2 separate regions of the Homo sapiens genome follow, and region 2 is linked to region 1. The links come from fine-mapping of genetic effects on gene expression. A gene starts in region 1. The other region holds a variant in brackets. All regions are shown on one strand. Distances are between the middles of the regions.

Region 1 (15,627 bases):
GAGCAAGGTCTTCATTCATGGTCCTGAGCAGGTGCCATGGGATTGGGCTCTGGGCACTGACTTAACGGCACCTCCCTAGAAGGCGAGAAACATGCCAAATCTAAACACACCAGGACTCCCATCCATCGCCTTGAGACTGACCGTAAACCACAGACGCTCTCCAGGTTCTCAAGAGTTATCCTGCCTTCCAGATTCCTGCCTATCCCAACTCCCCAGCCTTGTTGAGGTTCTCTATTGCCTCTTGAATACAAATGCACTCCCAAAGTGGTTTTAAGAAAATAAAAAGATTATCCTTCCTCTTTGTCTAAGGGTCCTACTCCTCACACTCAGAAACAAAGAAGCTCTCCCTGCTCTCTCTGTGATGGGAACACTAGTTCTAGCATCCTGCAGGCTTCCCCGCCCTGCTGCTCATGGCGGAAATGCTGCCGCAGTCCAAAAGCCTCCTTGACTCCCGAATCCTCCCTGATGTCTCTTTACACCCCATATTCAATTCTGCCTTCAAAATACTTATGTCCACTCGTGAGATGGTAAGTGTTTAAAAATGGACTCTCTTAAAGGAAAAAAAAAGCTGATTTGTTGTACTTGACAATTTCTGTGGTATAATCACCCCCAACATGGCCAGTTTCAAGCTACCAGAAGTTTAACAACTGGATTGCAAAATTCCTGAAACTTAACGGTTGGCTTTCAGGGGCCAGTCCAAGCCTGCTGCAGGAGAGCACTGAGTTACATCCCTAACCTGCACACTTCTCACCTCCATCACCCCTCCCTGTCCCGGCCAGCATCATCTCTTCCGGGAACACTTCTGTAGCCTCTGTTGGCTTTCATTTTTCAGCTACAGGGATTTTTGGAAAAGTCAAATTGTATCACTCCTCTGCTTCTTCCCCAACACAGCTGCATGGCTCCCTTCATCCCTCCTTCAAGCCTCTGCTCAATGTCACTTTATTAAAGGCACCTTTGGCAAACCACCCTGTACATAATATCAATTCTCCTGTCTACCCTGGCATTCTAATTTCTCTTATCTTGATTAATTTTTATTTAGCATTTATTACCATAAGCATTATAACGAATACAGGCAGCCCTCGCTTTTCACAGCAGTGCAAGATTGCAAGAATGACTGTGCAGCCGGAAACCCAGGAAAGCAATCTCCACATCCAATCAGAAAAACAATGATCATATTGTGACCTTTACAATTTTTTGTCAAAATATAGGAAACTCTCATAGTGTCAGTTACAAATGTAGAAGGCAATAAAAAATAATAAATGAATATTTATTAGTACCCTGTAATTCAAAACATTGGAAACATCAAGTGTTTCAGTATTTTATTTCTTTGTAAAAATGTTTCAAGAGTAGTTGGAAGAGTGCTTACCTCCTTCTTGTACACTTCGGATATGGAGCAAACATCCTTTCTATCTGGGTGTTTTATCACCTTCCTCTCTAAGTTTGGATTTGTTTCCAGCACCTTATCATTTGCACTTTCAGTGTCGTGAAATCTCTGCAAAAGTTCCTTTCACGTGAAGATTTTTGCTGTTGTCACATCCTCAGGGACACCTTCGCCCTATTTGTCAGTACCCCATCCCGTATCTGTTAAATTCACCTTCTCTAAGTCCTGCGGGCTGCCTATCTGAAGTTTTTCAAACACTACCAGGGTCTACGTTGCCTCACCAGCTATTCATGCTTCTATAACTCCACTGACATACAATTTGAACTTTATCTCCAGCATTTTCACTGCTCATTTATTCACTGCATTTTCACTGTGGTTGTCCAATCTCTCTTTCAATTATTTGTTTCCCAAAAATGTCACATGGGCTCATCACCAGTTACATGAGGTTGCAGTCTTATGTGAGCCTGTGCCCCTGGCCTGTGGACTTCACAAGTGCCTCTCAGTTTTTTCCCCTATGGTGGGACAGGATGGCCAGAGGGGGCTGGAGTTGGGTGCTTGCCTTCCCCAGGTAGGTTAGGCTCTGATCAAAGCCCAGCAGATTAGGCACTGGTAAAATAGTTTCTCCTGAGAGCTGGGCTTGGTAAGAAGAAAGAATGCTCTGGTGTAGTTCAGAATGATTCGCTTTCCCCTCCACACCCCCCAGGAAGCACAAGTGAATGTTTCTCTCATATTCACTCTGAGCACCTAATCAAGCTCCTGGAGGTAAATCTCACAACAGTGTTGGAGTTCCCTGCGATTGGGTCCTGCTGGAATCTGTTCCTCAGACTGGCCCACACCAAGCCTCTAGCAATTCTTCAATTACAGTGCAGGTTTTCCTACCCTGGCACTGGTTCCCATGGAGGTTTTGGCTTCAGGAAGTTGTAATTCTCTATATCATTTTGTCTAACTTCCAGTTTTGGAGACAATGGTCTGCTCTGTGACCTCATTTCTCTGACAGACCTGAGAAGAGTTGCCATTTCTTATTTGCTCAGCTTGTTACTTGATGTTGGCCCTAGGGACTTTTTGCAGGGGACATCCAGGAGTTTTGGTTCCATCCTTAAAGGCTGCTACAGTAACAAGACCTCAAACTTTCCACACCCAGAATTACAGTCTCTGAAAATCCAAACTCAGTCCTTAGCTACAGGGCCCTGTGGATCAGGGCTGTCAACTGAGGAAGGGCCAAGGGAACCCTGGCATGAAGTGAGTGCCCCTGGGACAGAGAGCAGGCCCAGAGCAGTCAAACTGTCTCCACTACTGTCCAAGGCTCCCAGGCGTGGGAACCCCAAGGTGGATATCAGCAACTTCCCAGGGGTGGCAACTCTGCCTGCTTCCTCTTTTACTATGAGACCATGCCAGTCTCGTGGCCTTTTCCTTCCACAGCAAATTCCCTCCTCAGATATCATGGCAGGTGGGGCTTCTCCTTCCCTGCAGAGCTCAGAGGCTGGGGTCTCTCCGTGATAAACTTTCAACAGAGCAGGCAATGACCATACCTGTCTTCCAGCCCACCTGGACAACCCTTGCCTCTTTATGCTATTGGGACTCACAGGTGAGAGCAGCCTGTTCTACACAGGTGTATTTATATGTAAGTCTCCTCACCCTCTCAGCCCATCTCACCCGTATCTATGGATTTCCATTTGGGAACATTTTCTTCTCTCCCATCCCAGCAGGAGACAAGATTTGGAGTACACTTTCCGTGAGCATCTGTGCAGACTCTTACCGGGATTTGCCTTTCTTTAGTCACAGTGATTTCCCGAGGTCATGCTTGTACCATGACCCAGGTGCTAGTAATGACTTCGTGATTATAGGGCTAGACACGTGACCCACACTCATCATGTGGTGGTATCTGCACATCCCCCAGCCATTGGCCAGGGTTGTCGCACTGCATCGTAAATCCTCGAGGACAGAGAGTCTGTTTTTTAAAGGTATTACTATTGCCAAAACACCACCTAATAACAATAACATCTAACTTTTGGAGCACAATCAGCAATTATTAAGGAATTTACATATATTAATCCATTTTATGACCATAACAAACCTCTGAAGTTGATACGATTACTTCCATTTTATATTTGAGAGAACTCAAGAAACAGAGATGTTAAACAGACTCCCCTGGGTCACACAGCTAGAACTGATAGAACTAAATTCAAATCTAGAAGTTCTGATTCCTAAGCCCACAAACTTAATCTTTGCTCTCCTCAAACATCCACTGACTCCTCACTTGTCCCACAGCCTTATCTCATTATCTGCACCTTCTGTCATGAGTGCAGGGCTAAACTTGGCAGAAAGAGAATTTTAGCTCATGGTTCCCCAGGCTCCTGGTTTTCTCAGACATCCAGGCTGTATCTGTACTGCACAAAGTCAACCTAAATTTGAAACTCAATTCTCCACATGATTTCCACAAAATTTTTCACTCAAATTGTATCTATGCATCTAATAGATCTTCATTGAAGGATTGGAGTTCACAGGAAGTCATCTTGCTGCTTTAAGTAGAGATTCTGCCAGAGCATGGAAATTATTCTATCAATATTTGAGTCATATATTTCAAATCATAATTTTTGGAGGCATAATATTTTGTGACTCATCTTTCAGGTTAGTTGTTACTTTCATAAAAGGAAACATTTCTCTTTCAACCATTTGTGCTTTTTACCTTAAACTATGCTTCTTAAGATAGTATTTCTATTGCAACATTTTCAAACTATTTTGTGTTACAGCTTTTACCATTGCTATATTTATACCTATTGTCATTAATTTGTTTGGGTGTGTCTCTTGGTGCTGGGTTCTAGGAGATTGTCCCTGCATGAAGAGCCAGCTCACTAACTTACTACTCACTTATGTACAGTCAGCTACTCAATTGATACGGTTTGGATCTGTTTCCCCACCAAAATCTCATGTCAAATTGTAATCCCCAGTGTTGGAGATGGGGACTGCTAGGAAGTGATTGAATCGTGGGGGCAGGTTTCCCTCTTGGTGCTGTTCTTGTAATAGTGACTGAGTTCTGGTGAAATCTGGTTGTTTAAAAGTGTGTAACACCTCCACCCTCTCTATCCCTCATGCTCCAGCCATGTGAGATAAGTCTCCATCCACTTTGCCTTCCACCCTTACTGTAAGTTTCCTGAGGCCTCCCAGAAGCCAGGTGTATGCAAGCATCATGCTTCCTATACAGCCTGTGGAACCAGGAGCCAATTAAACCTCTTTTCTTTATAAATTACCCAGTCTCAGGTATTTCTTTTAGCTGTGTGAGAATGAACTAATACAAAAAATTGATACTGACGAGTGGGGCATTGCTATAAAGTTACCTGCAAATGTGGAAGTGGCTTTGGAACTGGATAATGAGCAGAGGTTGAATGAGTGTAGAGGGCTTAGAAGACAGGAAGATGAGCGAAAGCTGGGAATTTCCCAGAGATTTCTTGAATTGTGACCAAAATGCTGAGAGTAATATGGACCATGAAGTCCAGGCTGAGGAGGTCTCAGATGGAAATGATGAACTTCCTGGCAACTGGAGCAAAGATCGGTTTTGTTAAGTCTTGGCAAAGAGCTTGGAGGCACTGTGCCCCTGCCCTGGGGTTCTGTGAAACATTGAACTTGGGAGTGACAATTTAGAGTATCTGCTGGAAGAAATTTCTAAGCAGCAAAGCATTCAAGAAATTTCCTGAGGCGGGGCACAGTGGCTCACGTCTGTAATCCCAGCACTTTGGGAGGCCGAGGCGGGCAGATCACGAGGTTAGGAGTTTGAGACCAGTCTGGCCAATATGGTGAAACCCCATCACTACTAAAAATACAAAAAAAAAAAAAAAATTAGCCAGGTGTGGTGGTGCATGGCACACACCTGTAGTCCCAGCTATTTAGCAGGCTGAGGCAGGAGACTCACTTGAACCCGGGAGATGGAGGTTGCAGTAAGCCAAGATTGCACCACTGCACTCCAGCCTGGGTGACAGAGTAAGACTTTATATCACACACAAAAAAGAAGAAGCAGTTACCTCGCTGCTTCTAACAGCCTAATTCATATGCGTAAGCACAGAGATGACTTGAAACTGGAACTTATATTTAAAAGGGAAGCAGAGCATAAAAGCTTGGAAAATTTGCAGCCTGGACATGTGGTAGAAAAGAAAGGCCCATTTTCAGGCAACGAATTCAAGCAGGCTGTGAACTTTGCATGAGTAAAAAGAAGCCAAATGCTAATATTGAAAACACTGGGAAAAGCCTTCAAAGGCATTTCAGAGACCATCTCTTTACAGGCACAGAGGTCTAAGAGGGAAGAATGGTTTTGAGAGCCAGAACCAGGGCCTGCTGCCGTGTGCGGCCTTCGGACACGGCCCACTGCACCGCATTCACTCCAGCTCCGGTCTTGGCTCGAAGGGGCTCGAGTATATCTCGGCTGCTGCTTCAGAGGGTGCCAGCCATAAGCCCTGGTGGCTCCATGTGGTGTGAATTCTGCAGGTATGCAGAGTACAAGAGCTGAGGATTGGGAGCCTCTGCCTAGATGTCAGAGGATATATGGAAAAGTCTAGATGTCCAGGCAGAAGCCGGAGCCCTCATGAAGAACCTCTACTAGGGCAGTGCAGAAGGGAAATGTGGGGTTGGAGCCCCCACACAATTCCCACTGGGGCATTGCCTAGTGGAGCTGTGAGAAGAGGGCCACCTTCCTCCAGACCAAAGATTGATAGATCCACTAGCAGCTTGCACCATGTGCGGGGAAAAGCTGCAGGCATTCAACACCAAGTATGAGAAGAACCGTGGAATTTGAATTTTGCAAAGGCACAGAGGTGGAGCTGCTCAGGTTTTGGGAGTGCACCCCTTCCACCAGTGTGCCCTGGATGTGAGACATGGAGTCAAAGGAGATAATTTTGGAGCTTTAATGGCTGCCCTGCTGGGTTTCAGATTGCATTGCATAGGCCTGTATTCCCTTTCTTTTGGGCAATGTATCTCTTTTGAAATGGGAGTATTCCCATTCAGATGGCTAAAGCCAATGCCTATACCCCATTGTATCTTGGAAGTAACTGACTTATTTTTAATTTTACAGGCTTATAGGTGGAAGGCACTTGCCTTGTCTCAGATAAGACTTTGGACTTTTGACTTAATACTGAAATGAGTTAAGACTTTGGGGGACTTCTGGGAAGGTATGATTGTATTTGCAATGTGATAAGGACATAATATTTGAAAGTGGGCAGGAGAAAATGATAAGGTTTAGATCTGTGCCACCACCAAAATCTCATGTTGAATTGTAACCCCCAGTGTTGGAGGTAGGACCTGGTGGAAGTTGGCTGGGTCTTTGGGTCAGATTTCCCTCTTGGTGCTGTTCTCATGATGATGAGTGAGTTCTCATGAGATCTGGTGGTTTTAAAATGTGTGGCACCTCCCTACTCTCTCTCTCCCTCCTGCTCTGGTCGTGTAAATATGCTCACTTCCCCTTCACCTTTTGCCATTTTTGTAAGTTTCCTGTGACCTCCCAGAAGCTGATACCAGCATTATGCTTCCTGTAAAGCCTCTGAAACCATCAGCCAATTAAACCTCTTCTCTTTATCAATTACCCAGTCTCAGTCTCAGGTATTTCATTATAACAATTATAGAAAGAACAGATTAATACATCCACCTATTTGTTTTTTAAACAATTTAGCACTAATTATATTTTTTCAAAATTCTTCTTTTTATTACTTTTCTCAGATACCTGTTGTTACTGCACACCTACCTATTCTTGTTTCACACGTGACTTTGTTTTATGGATTTACTTTCTTTTCATTATCTCTATAAGGTTACTAAATATGTTAATGTTAAAAATATTTTCACATTTTATATTTTTATTTTCTGAGGTATTATTTTCTAAGATGTTATTTTCATTGCTGTTTTTGTTTTTTAGTTATTGTTTTTGAATTTATTATGATGTCGCTTTTCCCCAAATCTTTAGTGATTACTGCTTTCACTGTAATCTTTACAGGAATAATGCCCTGAGTGATCATGGGCTGTCAGCACTTTATGGAACATGGCACCTATCCCAACCTTGCTGTGGAGGCTGCGCCTAATTGACGTTATGGCTTCTTCTCTGCTTCCTTCCTGAGAGATATCTCTCCCTTCTTATGAGAGGTGTCATAGTGAAGGCCATGGAGTGTGACAACCTGTGTTCTAGTTCTAAAAGCTGGGTGATGTTGAACAAATGTATTATTGCCTGCGTGCCTCAAGTTTCCTCACCTATAAAAAAAGGTTAATGGTAGTGCTAATTTCATGGGACCAGAGTGATGAATTAATGAGGTAACTGACAAAATGCTTGGCACAGTACCTGGAGCACAGGACATCTGCAGTAAACACAGCAGCTACTACCCTTCATGTCATATAGAGACTAGTTTCTTGTTTTAAAGTGTAATTTGGCATCGATTAACATGATTTTATCATTTTTATATTCATTTCTGTGAGTGTGGAGCAGGAGGTGATGATTTCACCCTCTGTGCATCTGCCACATTGAAAAAGAAATTTGCATGGAAATGTGATGACTTTTACAATTTCATTTGACAATTACTCATGATAGGTGAAGGATTGCAAGCCCAGCATGGGAAAGAGAGGTTTCCAGACAGGTCTTTCTTAGTCACAGATGATGGAGGAGAAACCATTTCTCCTACCAAGGAAATTTTTCTAAAGCACAAGTATGTCAGGGAAGCAGTGAACTCACCCTGTACACAAATGTAATTATAGCCACAATTTTTTGGTTATAATTAAATATGAATCAAACCTTCTGTATGGCTTATATTACTCTTACCATATCACTACAAGGTGCATGTTATAACTTCCATTTACATGTAATTAAGTTAAGGCTTAGAGAAGTCAAGTGTCTTGTTGAAAGTCACACAGCTGGAGATTGTAAGAAAAGGAATTCATCTACAGATTGACAAAAAGCAGGGTGAAGAGGATCCAGAGGGAGAAATTGATCTCAGAGTGTCAGAGGTAGACCAAGTACACCATAAAAGCTGGGTTCCAGAAGTCCGGGGAACATGGGAGAAGGCCACTGGTGGGAAACTCAGCATGCAGTAGAAATCCATTTAAAAGCAATATTTGAGTTCCCTCTCTTCACCTGGCACCATGAGTATCAATAATAACCTACTGAATCTCAGGGATGTATAGTCATTATCTCTTTTGATGTTCACTAAAACATGGCAGTGAGACTTATTATCCCAAGGTTAGAAGGCAAAACTGAACCTAGGCAGGCCCAGTAACTTCCCCAACTCCTTAGCACATCTTCTTAGGGTATTTATTCTCCCTCCCTCCTCAGTTCCCATCTGAAGACAGTGATGAATGGAATAGGTGTTCTATGTGCAGAGCAAAGAGTATTGAAATCGATGTGACTGCTCCAGGAATCTGCCCTCCATATTCTCCCCCATAATAAACATATCCCCTTTCCATAACCCATAATCCCCACCTCACCTCACAAAGCAGATCCTTATTACCCTAAGCCCACTTCCTCTCCTGGAAGAAGTCAGGAAATAATTCCTTCTGCTGGGTGCAGGCATATGAAAGTGCTAACGGCCACATGAGACTGAATTTGGGCTAAGTTTTGCCATTTATATTTATAAAAGTTCGGAATAGGGAACCATTTCAAGAGCAGACCTGTTCCTCTCCAACACTGAGCAGGTCCAGTGATCCCTCATCCTGCCCCAACTGAGTAGCACTTGGTTGAGGCTGTTGTAGAATGAGACCACAAGCCAACCACATCCTGAGGTCTTGAGATGGAAAGTTTAGGAAACATTTCATAACCACAGGTCCTTCCTGGCTTAAGAGCACCAAATGGCAAATCACCAAGAAGACATAAAGATGGGGTTAGGAGTCATGGAAGGAGTTAAGACCTCAGGTGGGAAGGAAGCATTATTTCTGCTAAGCCTGTCTGATTCTCCTGAAATGGGGCATGCATAACTGCTTGCATTGTAGCTGCTTGCTGTTCCTGATTTCTGTTTCACAATCCAGAAGCAGGTTACTGCTTCACTCCATCGCAGCCACTTCCTCTTGAACTAAGGGAGGCAGGGCTTGTCTTCTCTCCTCAGAGCAGAGTCTGCGATCTTCCCAGCACAGACGTTTGGACAGAGCAGGCTCCTAAGGTCTCCAGAATGCCCGTGCCAGCCTCCTGGCCCCACCTTCCTAGTCCTTTCCTGCTGATGACGCTACTGCTGGGGAGACTCACAGGTGAGCACTGCCTTCGGTTAAAATCTTTTTTCCTGCCCACTGAGCCATGGCCTGTCCCTGGACTTTCAGGGATTCCGGACAATGACAAGTGCTGCCAAGAAAGGCCAAGGATTAGGCTTTGACTGAGAGCAGAAAATCAGGGAGCTGAGCACTTTCTCTGTGGATCTGCAGCTGGCTACCAGAGGCATTGAACCACAGGACGATTCAACCACCACAACAACAATTACTTACATTTTGATAATATTTCAATTGAAAAAGCAGAGAAGAATCATTATCTAAATCCTCACCAGTCCTGAGGCCCTAGGGCCAAGTGACATGCCCAAGTCCACAGAGTAAGCTCAGAGACACCCTAACAGGGTTATGTGGCTCTAGGCCCAGCCCTCTCTCTTCACCAAACTGAGGATGTGAAGTCTGTAATAGTGCTCACTTGAGTAGGGCAGTGGTGTGGTGTATCCTGGGAGTGTTCAGCCACCATCCTCCCTAAGGGTGCTCCTCACTTTGTCCTCTGTTCCCCCATGCTCCTCCCTCCCCTGTGACCTGATTCTTACCACCCATTTCTCTGTGGCCTCTTCCTCTTTAAGAAGTTCCACATTTGCTGCTTACTGGGTCCTATATTCCTTTCCTAGGGCTTCCATAACAAAGAACTGCAGGCTGGGTGGCTGAAACTACAGATATTTACTTCCTTGCAGTTAAGGAGGCTGAAGTCCAAGATCAAGGTGTCAGCAGGGTTAGTTTCTACTGAAGTCTCTCTCCTTGGCTTATACAGGGCCATTTTCTCTCTGTGTCTTAAACACATGATCTTCCTCTGTGTGTGTCTGTGTCCTCATCTCCTCTTCTTATGAGAATATCAGTCTTGTTGTATTAAGGCCCACCCCAATGACCTCATTTAACTAAATTACTTCTTAAAGACCCTGTCTCCCAAACTGTAACGTTCAGAGGTGCTGGGGATTAGAGCTTCAACACATGCATTTTGTGGGACACATTCAGCCCATAACAGGTACTACAACCTCCTTTGGTTCTCTTAAATTTCCCATGGATAATTTCTTTCCCCTTCCCAAGACAGGCAGGATTGGAGGGCCTTTCCTGGTGCAGCCTGGGAGAACCCTGCTCACAGCTCCCAGACAAGTTACCTGTCCTGATCCCTTCTCAGGCCATGGAGCTGACCCCAGAACCACAGGGCTGGGCACAGCAGCCTCTCAATTCCCCACTGGGCCCTGCTGTGATGTCACCTCACAGGCCCTAGAGGGCAGGGGTCTCACTTTTCAAATTATTTTTCTCACACATACACTGTACCCAAATGACAGCAGTAAGAGTTTAACAATTGAGCTCTTCCTACCATGTAGACACAGTTATTAGCATTTTGCCTGTTTTAGCTCCACTAATCCTCACAACATCCCTGTGTGAAAGCTGCAACTATTATCCCCTATTTCCAAACAAAGACTCAGGCAGAGGGAGGAACTTGTCCATTCATTGTCCCCTACCTCAGTCAGTGGAGCAGCTGAGATTCAAGTCCAGGTCGACCGGCTCCAAAGTTCATTCTTTTAGTCGTGTTATGCTACTAGCAGAAATATTAGAAAATGCAGGGAAGTAAACATAGAATTAATTATTGCCTACCACACTTGTTAGCAACAACCAGAGTTACAACTGTGATGTATGTACTTCTAAATTTGTTATTAATGTGTTGGATGCTTTCTATGGGCCACATATTTTACTTTCTATGGGCCAGATATTTTAATGAGATTTTAACGTGTGTTGTAATTTTATTTAATACACAAAACAAACTTATATACTATCACAATAGGTCACACTTTGATATATATTTGTGAATGTATATGTGTGTGTCTATATATACATATATATGTGTGTGTGTGTATATATACATATATGTGTGTGTATATATATTTGCAAATGTGTGTATACATATGTGTGTATACATATGTATATGCATGTATGCATATAAGTAAGTGTACATGCACACACAGGAGATTTCATTTTTTATCATTGTTTCTCCAAGTTTCTAATTTCAATGAAACTTTTAACAAAATATTTTATTTTTATTTGACAGAACTGTATATACTTATCATGTATACCATATTAATGAAATATGTGTACATTGCAGAATGCCTAATTTGAGCTAATTAACATATGACCTACCTTGTATATGTATCATTTCTGTGGTGAGATCTCTCAAAATCTGCTTTCAACAATTTTTGAGGTTACGAATTGTGTTATGAACTCTAGACCCCATATTGTACAATAGATTTGTGGAACTAATTTCTCCTAACTAAACTGAAATTTTGTATCCTTTGACCAATATCTCTCCAAATGCACCCCCTGCCTAGTGCCTGGTAACCAATATTCTACTATCTACTTCTATGAGTTCAACTTTTTAAAATTCCACATATGAGAGACATTATGCAGTATTGTCTTTCTGTGCCTGGCTTATTTTACTTAGCATAATATCTTCCAGGATCATTTATATTGTTGGAAATGATAGGATTTCCTTCTTTGGTCAGGCTGATTAGAATTCCATTGTGTATACCAATTTCCTTTCTCCATTTATCTGCTGATGGACATCTAGGTTAATTTAATATCCTGGCTATTGTAAATAATGCTGCAATGGACATGGGAGCACAGATATCTCTGTGACATGCTTATGTCATTTCCTTTGGATGTATGCCCAATAGTGAGATTGCCAGATCATATGATAGTTCTATTTTTAATTTTTTGAGGAGCCTCCATACTGTTTTTGCTAATGGCTCTACTAATTTACATTCCCACTAACTATGTGCAAGAATTCCCTTTTCTCCACATCCTCTCCAAAACTAGTTATCATCTTTTTTATAGTAGCCATTCTAACAAGTGTGAGATGATAGCTCACTGTGGTTTTAATTTGCATTTACCAGATGAATAGTAAGGCTGAGTATTTTTATAGGTCTGATGGCCATTTTAATGTCTTCTTTTGAGAAATGGGTTTTAAGATCTTTGGCCCATATTTTAGTTGGGTTGTTTTCTTAATATTGAGTTGTTTCACTTCCTTATATATTTTGTATATTGACTTTTCATTAGATGCATGGCTAGCAAATATCTTCTTCCATTCTGCTGGTTGTCTTTTCACTCTGTTGATTGTTTCCTTGGCTGTGTAGAAGCTTTTTAGTTTGTTGTAATGCCGTTTGTCTATTTTTCTTTTGTTGCCTGTGCTTTGGGACTCATATCTGAAAATTCATTGCCCACACCAATGTCATGGCACTTTTCTTCCAGTACTTTTACACTTTTAGATCCTACACTTAAGTCTTTAATACATTTTGAATTGATTTTTGTGTGTCATGTGAGAGGAAGGTCTAATTTTATTCCTCTACAGATGGATATCCAGGTTTCCCAATGCCACTTTTTGAAGAGACTGACCTTTCCCAATTGTGTCTGCTTGACATTTTTGTCAAAGGTCAATTGAGTGTAAATGTGTGCGTTTATATCTGGGCTCTCTGGTCTGATCCATTTGTCTATGTGTCTATTTTTATGCCAGTGCCATGCTGTTTTGATTACTATGGCACGGTAGTCAAGTTTGAAATCAGGCAATGTGATGCCTCCAGTCTTTTTGCTCAAGATTGCCTTTTCTACTCACAATTTTCTATGACTAATGTGAACTTGAGGATTGTTTTGTCCATTTCTGAGGAAAATGTCATTGAAATATTACTAATAATGAATTGAATCTGTAGATCTCTTTGGGTAGTATGTATATTTTTAACAAAAGTAATTATCTAATCCACAAGCATGGATATCTTTCCATTATTTTTGTTCTATTTATTTTTCATCAGGGTGTTATAGCTTTTTTTGTGGAGGTCTTTCATGTCCTTGAGTAAATCTGTTTCTAGCTATTTTAGCTTTTTTGGTAGTAATTGTAAATGCGATTACCTTACTGATTTCTTTTTTCAATAAAGTCATAATAATGACAGTAATCAATATACATGATAAATAGGTAAATAAAATCATAAATTAGCCACTGATAAGGGAAAATAAAATAAGGTATGTGTATATAACTTTTATCTTATAGAAATTTTCATATATTCCTATTATTGATGGTATTTTCACAAAAAGATGTCCACATTTCTCAAATGCTGTTTTGCATCAAATGAGATAATCATGTGTTTCTTCTCTTTCTTCTATAAATATGGTGTATTACATTCTTTGTCATTTGTATATTGAAACATTCTTGTGTTCCAGGAATAAATACCACTTGCTCATTGTGTATATTCCTTCTAATATGCTGCTGAACTCAGCTAGTGTTTGGTTGAGGATTATTGCATCAACAAACCGAGTAATAATAATGCCAACTGTTAACAGAAAGGTGTGCAGCTCTACCTGGCAGTGATCTTAGTTTTGTATTTTCATGGAAGTTTAGATTCCAGTGGGCTCCATTTCAGATAAGCAGAGTCTGGCTTTGGGACAATTTATGGTTAAAGAGTACGACAGGAAAGTATGCTCCCCAGATCTGGACTCTAAGCCAGGAGAGCCCAATAGATAACCAGAAATTTCTTGTTGTAATGGAGTATAGCAAAAGCTGAGAGGGGCATTATATTTGCATCAAAGGCCCTGGGGAAAATGTCTGGCCATCATGAGTGGTTTAGAGACTCCAAGAGGCATGAAAGACACAGCCAAAGTCTCTACAGAGAAGAGATACTTTTATTTGTTAATTCATTTAAAGACACTAACAGGAGGGCCTGTTGATTTTAATTTGTAAGTAAAATTTGTAAATGAAGAATATGTTGCCACAAGCACCCCAGAAAAAACTTACTGATGCTGGATTATGTGACATTAATATGCATATCACATGAATCTTCTTTGAAGAGGTGTTACCAATGTTATATCATCTTGTGCTCTTGAAGAAAGGCAGATGTCATTATTGATATTGGAACAGGATCCTCGCTTCAGGATGGAGAGCCATGGCAGCACTCCAAAAGGCAACACAAAGCTGTACATAGCATAGCACAAGAAAGTCATCAGGGTGAAAAGCCTTCTCAAATTGTGGAGCCAATCAGAGTAGCAAATCAGTAAGTCATGAGTCAAAGGCATTCCCTAGGAACTTTCCACCTGAGTTTAGAATGATCCCATCCTCATTGCCATTACTATTGAAAATGTTAGAGTGATTCCTGCTGGTTGAATTTTGAGGATCACTCTAACATGGCCATGAAAAGTTCATATGAAGAGGCATACTCACAGTTCCTAGAGAAGGAAGTAGGGCAGGCCATGCAGGAAGCCATGTGGGAGGAGCTCCCAAGGAGCAGGCTCAATCAAGCAGATGGGTAGGCAAGAGAGATGGGATCCCTGGGCAAGTGCCTTTACTGGGAGTCAAGGTGGAGGACACAAGCAAAAACCATGATGGGTTTTACTAGGGTGTTTCAATGTCACTAGGTCACAGTAGAGGAGGACAAGAAGAGGAATTGTGGCAGGGACCAGCTTTAAAATACTGGTTACCTGGTCACCTGGGCAGGGTGCTCACAGCTTGTTTGTGGGATATTGAAGCATGATTTTTAAAACATGTACACATAACTGGATATCTTTATTTCTTCATACAACTTTGAGTTGCCATGTAGCATCCTTTCATTTCCACCTGAAGCACTCCCTTTAGCATTTCTTGTAGGCAAGGTTTAATGGTCATGAACTCTGTTAGCTTTTGTTTATCTGAGAATATCGTAATTTCTCCCTTGTATTTGAAGGACACTTTGCCAGGTATAGAATTCATGATTGACATATTTTTCCTCTTTCAACATTTTGAACTTACCATCCCTCTATCTTCTGGCCTTCAGTGCTTTGTATAAGAGCTGAGCTGAAAATCTTATTGAGGGTCTCTTTTATGTAAGGAATCACTTCTGTCTTGCTGCTTTAAGGATTCTCTCTTTGACTTTAGTTTTCAACAGTTGGGTTATAATGTGTCTTAGTGTGGGTCTCTGAGTTTATTTTTGAGTTCAACTTGCATTTCTTCTGTGTCTTAATAGGTAGATTCCTGTATTTTATCTAGTCTGTGAAGGTTTTTGTCCACTATGTCTTCA
Region 2 (15,627 bases), 49 kb after region 1:
CCTAAAATGTGCTTCTTAAGCAAAAATACTGAATTCAATACAACATTATTAACTAAAATCCTCAGATTGCACATTCATTCTCTGGACTTCTTCCTCAGACTTATCACAATTTTGTGTCTTTTGACCTCCCCATCAACTCCCCCAAGTTCACCCCTAGTCACCACTGTTTTATTCTCTATCTTTGTGTATTTGACGTTCATCATTTCTTCTTCATTGTACCCCAGTAACACTATTTTGGACTTCTAACCTCCAGAACTATAAAATGTTACATTTCTTTTAACACACTAAGTTTTGGTAATTTGTCACATCAGCATTAGGAAACTTAGGTAATGTGATTATGCTATGGGTGAAAAATTACCAGGGGCTTAAAACAAGGTTATATTTCTACTGGAAGCTACATATTCAGTGTGGATTGGCAGTTCTGCATGCAACGGTCATTCACGCATCCAGGCGATGGAGCAGGCCCTATCAGAGCCTCGTGGTCTCCGGAAGGGAGAAATTGATCCACAGAGGCTCTTGCAGTTAAATGCACAGCCCACAAATTATACCCATCATTCTGCTCATAACTCAAGGGTCTAAAGAAGTCACAGGGCCCCACCCAATCCAGTGATACAAAAAGTGCCACACTCCATGTACCACAGAGTGGAGGCCATAATTGGCAAAACATGGCACTTCCGAGGAGGGCTCAATAGTTCTACTCAGGTCCTCAACCCAAAGCTCTACATTGAAATTGAACCTCTTGGCCAGGCGCGGTGGCTGACACCTATAATCCCAGCAATTTGAAAGGCCAAGGCAGATGGTTTGCTTGAGCCCAAGAGTTAGAGACCACTGTGGGCAACATGGTGAAACTGTGTCTCTAGAAAAAATACAAAAATTGGCCAGGTATGGTGGAATGCACCTGTGGTCCCAGCTACTTGGCAGGCCAAGGAGAAAGGATCTCTTGAGCCTGGAAGATTGAGGCTACAGTGAGCTGTGATTGCACCACTGCACTCCAGCCTGGGCAGCAGACAGAGCAAGACCCCGTCTCAAAAAAGAAAAGAAAAGAAAGCAAACAGAAAGAACAGAAGAAAGTAAGGAAAAGGAAATTGAACCTCTCTGTGCCTCAGTGTTCTCGCTTGTATTACAGTCTTACGTCACAGGCCAGTTGTGAGGGTTAAATGAGATAATACATGTAGTGGGCTGAGCTCAAGGCCTTTTCCTGGTGTGCACCCAGTCAATGAAAGCCATTGATAAACACTTGAGGAAACACAGAGAATCAGGTAAGGATGAAGAAATGACTGCTTTGTGCTCCTTTCCAGGAGTGGCAGGTGAGGACGAGCTACAGGTGATTCAGCCTGAAAAGTCCGTATCAGTTGCAGCTGGAGAGTCGGCCACTCTGCGCTGTGCTATGACGTCCCTGATCCCTGTGGGGCCCATCATGTGGTTTAGAGGAGCTGGAGCAGGCCGGGAATTAATCTACAATCAGAAAGAAGGCCACTTCCCACGGGTAACAACTGTTTCAGAACTCACAAAGAGAAACAACCTGGACTTTTCCATCAGCATCAGTAACATCACCCCAGCAGACGCCGGCACCTACTACTGTGTGAAGTTCCGGAAAGGGAGCCCTGACGACGTGGAGTTTAAGTCTGGAGCAGGCACTGAGCTGTCTGTGCGCGGTGAGTACAGCGTGGGCCTCCTTTGTCCCCTGGTGTGTGACAATAACTCAATAATTACATTATCCATTCTTGGAGCAACAGCCAGGTGTGGTGGTGGCTGAGCAGCCACCCTTTCATGAACTGATGTCACCCTTTCTCCAGATCACATGAGTTGAGGCTTGGAGATGTCATGGCAGTCGCTCGAGGCTCCACGGCTTGTAAATGATGGGACAGAAGGCATCCCCAGTCTGCGGCTCTACAGCTCTTGTGTTTCCAAAGCTGACCCAGCCCTTTGGTTCCACAGATGAGGGAACTCACAATTTGAGTGACTTGTCCAGGCACAGGGCTGGACCTTGCCTTCTGCCTCCAGAGAATGCTTCCCCCTCAGGGTGGCCAAGTCCCTTCTTTATGCAACAGGCAGTCACTGAGACCCCACTGTGTGCCAGGCTCTGCCCTGGATGCTGCGCAAACAGCAGTGAATGAAACAGCCTAAAGCGCTCCCCCACCAAGCTTACATTCTCTTCCCTTCTAATGAGGAGAAATCCGTCCAGGGCATGGAGAGGGTAAATCGTGGTTGTTTTTTTTTTTAATTTAATCTTCAGAAACACCCCACGGGGAAGATTTCTCGGAGGCACATTCACGGTTGAATCTGATGGCTTGGTGGGAGGAGATGCCAATATGTTTGGCATTTGCTGTGGGTCTATTTGGGAAACCCTTCTGTGATTTGGGGACTGAGTCACAGAGTTACCATGGGCTCCGAGCAGAGCTGCATCATCTCAGAATGTCCCTCACCTCAGGAAAGAGGTCCCACAAGTGGGTGACTTAGGGGTTCCCCATATAAGGTAGCAACAATGCTTATGTGGGGTTTCCTGCCAGAGCCCCAAAAGCCTCGTCTTAACTGCTGAATTCTGGCATGTCAGCACAGGAAGGACCTTCAGACCATCCAGCCCAACCCCCTTTACAGATGGGAGACTGAAGCCAAGACATGACAGGGGCCTTGTCCATGGTCACAGGGCCAGTTAGTGACAGAATTGGAGCCAGAGTCCATATCTGAATCGTGGCAGTCTCCTTCCTTCCCCAGCATTAGACGCTGTCTCCATAGAAGAGCCTGGTGCATCATAGGTGCTAGATAAAAGTTCCCCAAACAGAGCCAGGTGTCAGAGAGCCAGCATTTCTCTTTTCATCAGTTTCCCAAATGTTAAGAATGCACCTCACATTCAGATACTAAAGCTCATTGGTGACTAGAAAACTTCTCCCAAATGTAAGCCCTGTCATTTCATATCGAGATTCCACATCAGGACATAGAGAACTGCTCCAGTTTTTTTACAGCTGAAAAATACTCCAATTTATGGAAATACCAAAATTTATTTTACAGTCTTCTGTTGATGGATATGTAAGTTATTCCCAACATTGAGCTACTACAACAATCATGCAGTGGATGACCTTGTACATGTGTCACCCTACTCAGGTGGGAGATTCCCACTGGAAGTGGTGTTTCTAGGTCAGAGGATAGTGTGTTTTCATATTTGAGAATATTGCCTAATTTCCCTTCTAGATGATGTAGCAATCAGAGATTACAGACTTGAGCTACCATGCCTGGCTAATTTTGTATTTTGTAGAGACAGGGTTTCTCCATGTTGTTCAGGCTGGTCTCGAACTCCCAAACTCAGGTGATCCACCCGCCTCAGCCTCCCAAACTGCTGGGATTACAGGCGTGAGCCACCATGCCTGGCCCCACTTCAAACATTTTTAAGACAGTGGTTTTAACATCTGGCTCTAGCATCAGGGTGGACACAATACATAAGAAAGGTCCTTACAAGACAGAGGAAGGAGATTAATTCTCAGAGAAGGACTTGTGAGGATATAAGCAAGAGGTTAGAGTGATGGGAAGATGTAACTGTGAGAAAGGAATGTGGGCAGCCTCTGGAATTTGGAAAGGCAAAAAAACAGAACCTCCAGAAGACACATAGCTTTACTAACAGCTTTTTAAAAAAATGTGTATATGTAAAGCCTAAAACATGATGCTTTCATGTACATGTATGTACATGAAAATGTACATTGCTCAGTAATGACTGAAATCAGCTCCCCACAACCCTTGAACTTAGACAAGGAAGGTGGCTTTATCCTGATTGTGCAGATAATATTGGCAAAGACACTGAAATGCCCAGGTGGTGCCTCCCCAGCCCAGGCAGCCACAGCCAGTGGTGGCTCAGGTGTGACTCAGATCTGCTCACTCCTAGTGAAGTACTCACTCCTCTTTGCCATGCTCTCGGCCTAAATGATGAGCTACATGAGAAAGGAGGGAGGTGGGGAAGGGGGCCAGAGAGCAGCAACTGTGCCAGAGTCTCCTTATAACCAGTGCTATGAGGGAGAAGCCATTTGCTACCTCCTTTAAAGATGAGGACACTGAAGCTCAGAGAGGAGACCTGACTTGGGAGCAGGTCAGGGAGCCAAGGCTGGAACCCCGCAGCCTGACTCACAGCCTTTGTCTTTGTGACACTCAACTGTGGTTTTTCAAGAGTGGAGAAATGCTCCAACCTTCTCTTTCTAAACTCTTGCATTGTTCAGTTCTACAGCAAAAAGCATTAAAAACAAAACAAGAACCCTGTAGGGGTAGGAGGGCCTGTCTTCACACTCCCATCAGAAAGGCCCTGCGCATGTCTCATGATATGCCAAGCCGGTTCCTAAAGGACAGGTCTCAACACACATGAGGCATTTAGGACTCTTCCCCCATGTTGTGTTGTTTCCTCTTCACTCAGCAGCGTCCAATGAGCAGAGTCGAGCCTCCTGCAGCCCAGCAGAGCACGTATCTGCCCGTTCATGGTGCTGAGGACTAAGGATGAGGAGATGAGGCATTTCCTAGAGAGTGTTTGGGGCCCATGTGAGCAAGAGTTGAGATTCTCCCCTCCGGCTGTCAGGAGCCCACTGTCTTTTGCTTATGGCTGCAGGGTAACCAGGCCTGGGCACCCAGGAGGGAGGCTTCTCCCTAACATTGCATGAAGTCTAGAATCTCAAAGGGACAATTGAGGTGGCAGTCAGTGTTGGAGCTCAAGAAGTTAGAACACTTGCTCTGTTAATGGACATAAGTGCTTGGTGGGACACAGGAAATGCCCACTGGGACACATGGAGAATCGGGAGACAGTGCCTTCATTTTGTTCAGCCACGGCATCTTCATCTGTAGAATAGAGACAATCATGGACTCCTTTAGGAAAGTCGTAAGCGTAAGGTTCTCTCTGTAAATCACCTAGCACACTGTAGGCACCCCCAAAGTGAGGTGTTATTTCAAGATCGTGTGATCTTGGGCCAGTCTTGCCTTCCCTTGAGTCCTCGGTTTCCCCATCGGTGAGATGCTGATTATCATGGCCTATTCTGGGTTCTGTGAGGATTGGAGAGGATGTGCACAGAGCCCCTAATGGTGGTGTCATTCAGGTTATTACTGAGCTTCTGCAGAACTGTCGTTAGGAGAACACAGGCAGTATCCCAGCTGCCTGGGCCTCTTCCCGGCTCTGCCACTTCCTGGCTCTGTGACCTGGGACAAGGTGCTTCACCACCATAGGCCTCGATGTCCTCACCCTTTGATGGTAACACTGACCTCACAGACTGGGCCGAGTCTGAAGGAGTGATATTGTGTAAAATGCTTAGGGCATCAACAAGCACACAGTAAATGCTCAATAAAGGTGAGTTGTGTTAGGGTGAAGCTGTGTGACCTCAGACAGGTCAGGGCATCTCTAGGCCCCAAGTATAAATGGGGTTTGGGTTGGAGTCCAGTGGCTTTCAACCTTGGCTGCTCATTAGAATCATTGGGAAAACTATCAAAAAAAAAGTTTGCAAAGCTGGACCCAGGAACCCCCCTAAAATGCCAATTTAATTGCATCTAATTTGGGCCTGGATATCTAAAGTTCTTAATGGCTCCAGAAGATTCTCATACACAGCCCCCTAGCAAAAGCGGTGCCCCAGGTTTTGGGGCTTTGAGAACAGCTTTTTGGGTCATGGGTGCTTCAAAACAGCCATTCTGGAAACATTCTGGGAGGCCCCAGAAGCCTGAACAGGACCCCTCCCATGCTACTGGCCTCAGGGCCCAAGATAGGAGACTGGGACAAAGCCTGGCTCAGATGCAGCCTCAGGGCTGGGGAACCTTCTGTCTTGAAAACATTTGTATCTAAACACGTGCTGGAGTCCCAGCAAATCCTCACTCCTCAGCCCCAGAAGCCTCCCTCCCTCAGCACTCCCAGATGTCACTGAGGTATCTTTTCCCTCCTTCTTCCAAAATGCTTCCAGCTTCCCCTGTGATCTTACTTGAAAGCCAGTTCGCCAAACATGGTGGTTGCTGCTCCTTTTATCATTTGGGTTTTTTCTGGCAGCTGCGGTGAGTAGGGTTTGAGCCTTTCCTTGGTGTTTGTGTGCCTCTTTGTTCTGTTGCCTAAAGAATAGCTATGCAGCTCCAGAAGCAGTAATGACCAAACCTCATGATTACAGTCACAGGGGTTATTTATTAAGCACCTACTACATGCCAGGCTATGCCCTTGCACTTACCCTCACTCATCTTCCCAGGGTGGGGTTTCTATCTACTTTTGGCCCTTGGCCACCAAGGATCCTCTCAGAGTCTCGCCCTACACAAGGGCTCACATGAGGACCCCCTCTGACAAATAGAAGGAGGATTGAAGTGCTGAGAGGTACAGAGAGAGCAGCCAGCATCAGGCTGCCAAGAAGCCCTCAAAAAATCGGAACTGAAGACAGCCTCTCAGCCTTCTAGGGACACCCATGCTGCTGGTGTCTCAAAGACTTGACATCTTCAAGTGACACCCTCCTTACTGTGCTCTCACATTATTTCACGCATATCAGGGAGCAAGTTAATATTGGCAAAGTCAAACGTATAATATGTGCTTTCTAAGAGGACGGCAGAAGGTTCAAGGTAACAATTAGCAATTTGCAGACACCCTTAAAATTCATCTACATGGAGAAACTGCACTCGTTGTTCTGATTCTCCAATGTGTTTGCTTTCAAGGCCCAGAATAGGTTTCTGTCTGTTGGTGTGGCCTGGGTCTTTGTCTCTTGTAATTAATTAACGATGAAAAAGCTAACCACCTTTGGCTTTCTTAGTACTCAGTGATCCTTGTTTTTCACCCAAACCTGTCCTAACTGAAGATTCAGATTCCCAAAAATTTCCTCTTTTCAAATTTAGGACTTCCAGCAGATTAGAACAACTAACAACAACAGCAAAATGATTGTTAGGAAGGCCAAAGGAAATAGCATTTATCTGAAAGATAAAGAGGTGCAATTTGGGTACACTGAGTCAGTGAAACCCTGAATAGTGTCCCGTATGGCAATACAGGACAGGTTTTTTATAGGGGATTTTCACAAAAGGTTGTTTTTGGAAACAGTTCATTAGCTGGTTGAAAATCCTCAACTGCAAACCCACTCTCATTGGTTATTTCATTAAAGTACTCCAGGTGAAAGAGATCAAAATCCCACGGACCCTGGCTTCAGTTGTTATCCAGGTCTATCTACTGCAACATCCTGTGGCTTGACCTTTAGCAGGTGTGATTCCAATGCTCTTACAAACTCTTGGCTCTACGTTAAAGCTTTATCCTTAATTAATGCCTTTTATTTGACAGAACGAAATATTTGTGAAAAGAAAAATACGGAATGTTTCATATTTTTATAATACCTAAAGAGAGACCTCTGTGTATCTGTAAAGTCTGGGTTAAAGATAGATCTGTGTTTTTTGGGGGAAGCATCTTCTGTGTTTGATCCAGAGCAAAACTGCTTCCATTGCCCCATTGAATCCTGGCGACATCCCAGGAAGTAGAAACGCCGTCCTCCGTCCTCCTGTTTTGCGGATGAGGAGCTGGGGTTGTCAGCCCACCCCTGTCCTGGGCTGAGCAGCCTGGTTGCAGCTCTCACGGTGGTGCCACTTTGCCATTGATCCCTGTATTGGCTTCTATAAATGCCCTCTCTGAGGTTAGTGAGCCTTCCGGGGGAGGACAGCTAGGACCAGTTAATAACATGGAGGGAGACCAATCAGTAATTTTGTTCCTATGCCCAGATTGGTGGAAGTCTCCCTGTGTGGAGAGGACTTTGAACTCAGGCCTGGACTTCCCTCTGGGCCCTGCCCCTACTCACTGTCTGACCATGGCCTGGTTCTCACCTCTAAGAGCTGTTGTGTCCTGATCTGTAAAATGAGAATAAGGACACTGCCTTCACGACATTATTAGAAAGATTAAAAACTAACGTCTCAGAAGGTTCTTAACATGTCAAACGCTTATCATCAGTGATGGTCATCTGAGTCATGTCTCCTGATTATCGATGGTCCTTTTGTAGCCAAACCCTCTGCCCCCGTGGTATCGGGCCCTGCGGTGAGGGCCACACCTGAGCACACAGTGAGCTTCACCTGCGAGTCCCATGGCTTCTCTCCCAGAGACATCACCCTGAAATGGTTCAAAAATGGGAATGAGCTCTCAGACTTCCAGACCAACGTGGACCCCGCAGGAGACAGTGTGTCCTACAGCATCCACAGCACAGCCAGGGTGGTGCTGACCCGTGGGGACGTTCACTCTCAAGTCATCTGCGAGATAGCCCACATCACCTTGCAGGGGGACCCTCTTCGTGGGACTGCCAACTTGTCTGAGGCCATCCGAGGTAGAAGACCCTCACACCCAGCCCAAGCCCACACCTGGCTGCCAAGCCCACTCCCCTCTCCCCAGGCTCCAGAGCTTGAAAGGCCTGGAATCTAATTCCTAACTGTGTTGTCCACCTCCCATGCACCTAGGTGAGCCGGTCACTTACTATCATTTTAATGGCAGCTGTCAGGGGACCAGCAACCATGTGCCAAGCTCTGGGCTACAGAGTTTCATTTATTTCACCAAGAGCAACTACAATTAGTGAGCACCTACTAGGAGCCAAATCACTATGTGCTCGGCGATTTCACTGATTTTGCTACAGTTCTTACATTCCAACTGCATGCCAGGGGTTGTGCTTGTAGATTTCACTCATCCTTAGCCTAGCAGCAGCTAACAGTCCTTGGGCACCTACTGTGCGCCAGGCACTGTGCTTAGTAATTTCACTCATATGCAACGAGTGCCCTCAATGTCTGAGCACCTGCTGCCTGCCTAGCACTGTCCTGGTGATGCCCTCACTGTGTTGGTGGGAGCTACGTTATTTAGCCCTCCCTGTGATCTGTCTGTGCCACAAGATCAGAGCTTCTGCCCTGTGCTGTTTCAGTTCCACCCACCTTGGAGGTTACTCAACAGCCCATGAGGGCAGAGAACCAGGCAAACGTCACCTGCCAGGTGAGCAATTTCTACCCCCGGGGACTACAGCTGACCTGGTTGGAGAATGGAAATGTGTCCCGGACAGAAACAGCTTCGACCCTCATAGAGAACAAGGATGGCACCTACAACTGGATGAGCTGGCTCCTGGTGAACACCTGTGCCCACAGGGACGATGTGGTGCTCACCTGTCAGGTGGAGCATGATGGGCAGCAAGCAGTCAGCAAAAGCTATGCCCTGGAGATCTCAGCGCACCAGAAGGAGCACGGCTCAGATATCACCCATGGTGCGGTTACTTCCCATTTTTAAATTTTGTCTTTTTCTTTAATGTTAAAAGCAATATTCATGCTTGTCATAAAATAAGCTAGAAGTCTATAAATATAAAGTAGAATTTTAACGTCTACATTAAAATCCTACACTCCATGGGTCACCACTACTTAGAAGGTTCAAGGTAACAATTGGCCATTTGTAGACACCCTTAAGCCCCATCTACCAGGAGAAACTGTGCGTCAAGTCTGATGCACAACTTGATAGATATTTTGACATAAATATACATTAAAGGAAAAAAGAGAGAGGGAGGTGATCCGTTTGTTTATGAAGTCCTGTGTCTCGCCTTCTTCTGCATTTCTCGCCAGCACA[G/C]CACCTTGCCTTTTACACTTTCTAACCTCTACCTTGTCCCTATTCTATCCTAAACTTTTCCATCCGCATCTGTGACCTCAGCCACCAGTCTCCAGCATCTGCTCTATAAATTTCAGAAAGACAAGTGAAGTTTAAGCCTGGACAGACCCCCAGGTGACCTGGTCACAGCACAGGCTTCTTTTGTGTTCTGATGGTGATATTTGACCAACAATAATCACAACCACTCTGCACATTTACTATATGCAAATTTCTGTTCATCTCTGATCTCCTTTCCTGCTTCAAACACCCAGTGAGCTTGGAGTTTTACCAAAGGGGAAACCAGGACTTAGGAAGTAATGAGGGATGTTGTTGAAGACTTCTTGTCATTAGACCAGGTTATTGGTCCAAAGTAATGAAGGTAAATCTAGTCCCTGAGGACAGGCTCACTACCAGGCTATAATGGGAATTTGTGCTAATTAGAGAAACTTTCCCTTTCTGCTGCGCTTTGTCCCAAGGACCCAAATTTGGCCAGTGTTCCCCCTCTCTATAACCAAAATATGTCTTATTTCCCTCTCTTTTAATACCAGGAGGGGTCCCTCTACTCCAGTCGAAAGACAATCTTTGAGTGCTTTGACCCGAATACATCCTCCCACATCTCAGGGTCCCACAACTTCCCCATCAGGGCCCAACCCCAGCATAGAAGCCATTAAAGCTGACATTCAACATCCTTTGTGATTCTGCTACTCTTCTAATGATGGCTGGGGCCCAATCTTCTATTCTTTCTGCCCTGAGGCTCCAGGAAATAAGAATAAGGACTCAGGTTCCTTCCAAAACACCCTATGATGTTTGCGTCATCTCCTGGGTCAGTGCTGAGTCACGGATTTGTTCATGTCCCTGCCTGCCAGAAGAGGAAAGACACGAAATAGAAGACAAACAATGTCCCCAATCATCAGAGATGTGTGGAAGGTGCATAGTCACGTCCACTGAAAACTTGCTCACGCATGCACCTGCAGTTGCACATTGAGGGATCATGTGATCAAGGACATTTTTCACAAAACCAGTGTCATTGTCCACTTAAATTTTAAGTGTTCAAATCACTAAATTTCATAAAGTTATTAAAATAATTTCCTCATATCATCTAAAATGGAGCATACATTCACATTTTACCAAATTTTTTAGAACCATTTTCCTGTGTGTTAAATTTGGTTTTAATTTATCTTTAAATGCTTGTGTTTTCCTTTGAAAGATCTGGGCCCCAGGGATATTTTTGGATATTTTATAATCATAGATTCAATGTCGTTAATAGTTTAGGGTTATTCACATTTTTCGTTTCCTATTGAGTGAGCCCTGGTAAGTTGTGTTTTGCATAACTTTTGGTCCATTTCATCTAAGTTGTCATATTTATGTGTGTAGAGTTGTTCATAATATCCTCTCATAACCCTTTTGGTGTCTGCAGGGTCTGCAATGGTATCCCACGTTTCATCCTGATACTAAAAATGTGTCATTTCTCTTTTCTTTTTCATCAGTCATGCTAGAGTTTTTTCCCATTTTATTGGTGTTTTCAAAAGATTGACTCTTTGTTTCAATGGGTTTTTGTATTGTTTTTGTGTTTTCAGTTTCATTAATTATCTGCTCTCTTCTCTCTTTTTTTTTTTAAATTAATTCCTATCTCCTGCTTTCTTTGGGTTTACTTTGCCCTACTTTTTGTAGTTTCTTTAAGTGCGGGATTTATATTTATTGACTTGAGACCTCCTCTTTTCTATGTCCTCCCTTCATCACTTTCTGTGGCTGGGGGCTGGTATTTGGGCATAGAGTCCCTGCTGTTTGGCTGCTGGGCTGTTCCTCAGTCCTCAGGTTCTTACCTCGCTCTTCCACCTTGGAAGTTCTCCTATGCCTGCTCCTCATGATATTTCTTGGGTTCATAGTTGTACTTCTCAAGGAGGCACAGGATGAGATGAGTCTGTACCATCTGGACAAGGTTGAGTCTTTTCTTAGACTTCCAACCACCCACTGGGGCTGAGAGAGGGCTGCCATTTTTGGGTTCTTTCAGTGTGTCTGACATGGCATCCTGGCACATATGCTAAGTCTGGAAATGCATTTTAGGTTGTCTAGGCTGGCAGGCAAACTGCAGGATGCCTTCTGTGACGTGCTGCATCAGTGGCATGGGAGCCTAGTGAGAGACTGTGCCCTAGGGTTAGGTGAGTGTTCCCTTTTGACTCAGCCATTTTGCAGTTTGGCATTCTCTCTTCAAGCAATATTTAGGGCCTGGATTGTGTAGAATTTACTTTTCCTTTTCTGTTTCTTCTTTTGGCTTGGGGAGGATATTTATAGCGACAAGTAGCGATGCCACTGCAATTGTCCCCAGTAACTCTGAAGTCAACTGACAATCTTTGAGTGGTTTGACCCAAATGTCTCCTTCCACATTTCAGGGTCCCACAACTTCCCCATCAGGGCCCTATCCCAGCATAGCAGCCATTGAAACTGAGATTCATGCTCCGCTGTGATTCTGCTACTCTTCTATGATGCCCAGGACCCAATTCTCTATTCCTTCTGCCCTGTGGCTCCAAGAAATAAGAATCTGCAGTGCTGCCAAGAAGTCCTCTGGCTTCCAGCTGAACTTTAACTCATGATGAATCACTCTTAGTTTCTCATTGCCTTCCTCCCAAGAGTTCATGCCCAGCAACAGCTAACACCTTAGTTCTTATAACGACCATTTCCCAATCTGTTTTCAAAAGGCTAATGGCAAGGAATTTCCTTCCTGTGGTAACACTATCCCAGTTTAGTGCCAGTGAAAGTGTTATCAATCGCAACACAACAGCAAGTCACGGCTTCTCCAGTCCCATTCACCACCAGCCCTGGGGTCCTCATTGCTAGCTGATGAGTAATCAGATTCCCAACTTATATTTTAGAGTCTTCTTTCCAGACCACTTCCCAAGGACAGTTTCTCTGGGAGGCCACCTGAGGATGCATAAAGCAATGCAGGAGGCATCCTAGAGTGCTGTCAGGGTCAACATGCCTCAGGAATGAGGAGGCAGGAGTGTAGGAGGAGGGAGGTGCTGAGCCACAGTGCAGGCAGTACAAAGATGCAGCTGCTCTTGCAGAGAGGCAAAAGGCCGGAGGGTCCTGTAGATTTTTTTCAAATTGAGGGGAAGGGCTGGCCCTTCATATTCCCAATGCAGTCTATCTCTCATGTGGGCTGCCCCTTAGAAGGAATAAACTTGGGCAGTGCAGCTCTCCTCAAAGGAGAGAAAGCCCCAGAGAGCCACCCATCTGAGAACTGCCGGCCTGCAACACTCCAACACTCCAGCGGCTATAGATGCTGAGGTCTCCATTCCTTCCTTAAGGACCCACCAGCACCATTTTATTTTAAAAAAAATTTTTTTTAATACCTTTGTTACTTTTAACATCCAAAACCCCTTATTTAAAAAATGCAAACAGTCCCAACATGAGCTTCCGTAGATCTGACTCTCTGTGTCCAACAGAAAGATTTCAGATGACATCTGCACTGGGGTTGAGGTAGGAGAGATGATGTCTGAGGCCCTTCCAAGCCCGAGGCACATTCCCTGACTCACCAGGGAATTTTCCAGCCAGCAGGTTTAATTGGGTCTTGTCCCTGGAGGGCTCCCTGAGATCATGAGAATATGGGGTCCTCTCCCTGCCCCTGGGGCTAAGAAGGGCAGCATGCAACTCTCTCACTCTGAATCCATCCTCACACCACCTGCCCACCCTTTACTAATCATTCTCATGATCCTGGAGTGTTGGACTTGTCTTGGACTCAGGAGTCACCCTTGGGGACATAATGATGGGCTTCCCTAGGTTTGGATCCTACTAATCTCCTGACACTCCCTAAACTCTCTGGCCTCAGTTTCCCCATCAGAATGGAATAATAATCCCTGCCCCATGGGCGTGTGAGGATCAAGTGAGGAACCCAGTTGCCACATATATGAATACCTGAGCACACACTCTCTCCACCTTTTCCCTCCAGGAGGATAAACTGGCAGCCTGGGACAGGGTGAGTGAGAATGAGGAGCCACTTTCCCTGGCCTTTGCTTTCGGCTGGAGTCAGGAAAGCCAGAGCAGGATGCAAGTTCAAAAGCTTCAGAGGATTGATGGGCCCAGGTAGCCTCAGATGGGGTAAGTGGAGGCCCCTGGGATGAGCTCCCAGGTGGCCCCTCTCATGGCTCCTCCTCTTCCCTGATTTCCAGAAGCAGCGCTGGCTCCTACTGCTCCACTCCTCGTAGCTCTCCTCCTGGGCCCCAAGCTGCTACTGGTGGTTGGTGTCTCTGCCATCTACATCTGCTGGAAACAGAAGGCCTGACTGTAAGTTTAGGAGAGGGAGGACTGACCAAGGGCTCCTCCAGAAAGGCAAGGCCAGCAGGAGGGCCCAGCTCACATGCCATGCAGCTTCAGGGTCAGTGGAGTTTACAGAAGGTGACAGGGCTCCCTCAGGATACTCAGGAGTCTCAGGGAACCCTGTATGGGGCTCCCAACCCCCAGGGAGTGTGCAGGAGTTGGGATGGTCAAGGGTATTACAGGAGGTGGGATGCTTCAAGGGGGTTCAAAGTTGTCCCCAGTGGCCTAGGAGTCCCATGGAAAAGGTGGACAGAGGGGTCTAAGTGAGGGCCAACTGAGTGGGTGGTCCCTTGGAGGCCACTGCTGGGACTCCATGGGTTCAAAGTAATCCCCACCGTAGTGTTGAGAATTCCCAGATAGGCTGCTCTGAGGGCTGTTCCTGCTCTGACCTTCTGTGTGCTTGAGTGGAAAGCGGGGAAGAGGGAGCATCAGGACTTGGAAGAAGTGCTGAGCTGGCAGAGTCCTATCTCAGGTCTGCCTGTCCACCCATAACAGGCATCCCAAGAGGAGACCAGCACTAGGGACATATCAGGCTCTCAGGAAACATTTCTTAAATGATGAGCAGATGAATGAATGTGGATGTGTTTTCCAACAGCTCCTTCCTTCCTTCCCTGCCATGTAGGACCCTCAGTCTCTGCTGCCTCCTCCTTTCTTGAGAAGCTCAGCCTGAGAGAAGGAGCTGGCGAGAACCTTCCCCACACTCAGCTCCAAACGCCTCCTCTCCCAGGTCATCTGCCTGCCCACACGCTCCTGTTCCACCTTCACAAGACCATGATGCCCCAAAGCAGTGTCTCTATTCACGGTCCTGAGCAGGGGCCATGGGATTGGGCTCTGGGCACTGACTCATGGCACCTCCCTAGAAGGTGAGAAACACTCCAAATCTAAACACACCAGGACTTCTCCCATCCGTCGCCTTGGGACTGGCCATAAACCACAGACTCTCTCCAGGCTCTCAAGAGTTATCCTGTCTTCTGGATTCCTGCCTACCCCAACTCCCCCAGCCTTGTTGAGGTTCTCTACTGCCTCCTGAATACACATGAACCCCTATACCAATTTTAAGAAAAAAATGATTCTCTTTCCTCTTTGTCCAAGCATCCTATCCCTCAAACCCAAAAAGAAAGAAGCTCTCCCTTCTCTCTCTGTGATGGAGACAGTATTTCTTCTAGTATCCTGCAGCCTTCCCAGTCCTGCTGCTTGTGGTAGAAATGCTGCCACAGCCCAACATTGAGGAGCCCTCGATGACTGCCCTTTACAACTCATATTCAGTTCTGCCTCCAAAATGCATGTGTCCACTTACATGAGATGGTAAATGTTTAACAATGGACTTTCTGAAAGGGAAAAACCAAAAGCTGTTTTGCAGTGCTTGCCAATTTCTCTAGTGTAATAACTCCCAACCTGACCAATTTCACACTGCCAACAGTTAAACAACCAGATTGCAAGATTCCTGAAATTTAACAATTGGTTTTCAGGGCCCAGTCCAAGCCTGCTGCTGGAAACCTCAGAGTTAAATCCCTATTCTCCACACCTCTCACCTCCACCACCCCTCCCTGTCCCAGCCAGCATCATCTCTTTGGGGACCACTCCTCTGGCTTTCATTTTTCAGCCACAGTGATTCTTTGGAAAAGTCAAATCATATCACTTCTCTGCTTCTTCCCCAACACAGCTGCATGGCTCCCGCTCTCCCTCCTTCAAGTCTCTGCTCAATGTCACTTCATTAAAGGCACCTTCTATAAACTACCTTGTATAAAATATTA

Evidence for each region.
Region 2: its variant is fine-mapped to the expression of SIRPB1 in whole blood (TOPMed, PIP above 0.99).

What each region holds. Positions count from the first base shown.
Region 1 is chr20:1,613,822-1,629,448 of GRCh38, reverse strand. SIRPB1 (signal regulatory protein beta 1) reads left to right here and starts at 9,440. Exons shown (of 6, transcript NM_006065.5): 1 at 9,440-9,580. The coding sequence starts at 9,505. It overlaps SIRPG (signal regulatory protein gamma), which reads left to right. Exons shown (of 6, transcript NM_018556.4): 6 at 1-297.
Region 2 is chr20:1,564,366-1,579,992 of GRCh38, reverse strand. It overlaps SIRPB1 (signal regulatory protein beta 1), which reads left to right. Exons shown (of 6, transcript NM_006065.5): 2 at 1,299-1,655; 3 at 7,956-8,273; 4 at 8,856-9,188; 5 at 13,726-13,840; 6 at 14,496-15,627. The coding sequence ends at 13,838. Among named protein-coding and RNA genes, the nearest start is that of SIRPD, 14 kb to the right of the region's middle. The variant G/C (reference allele first, on the strand shown) is at 9,542.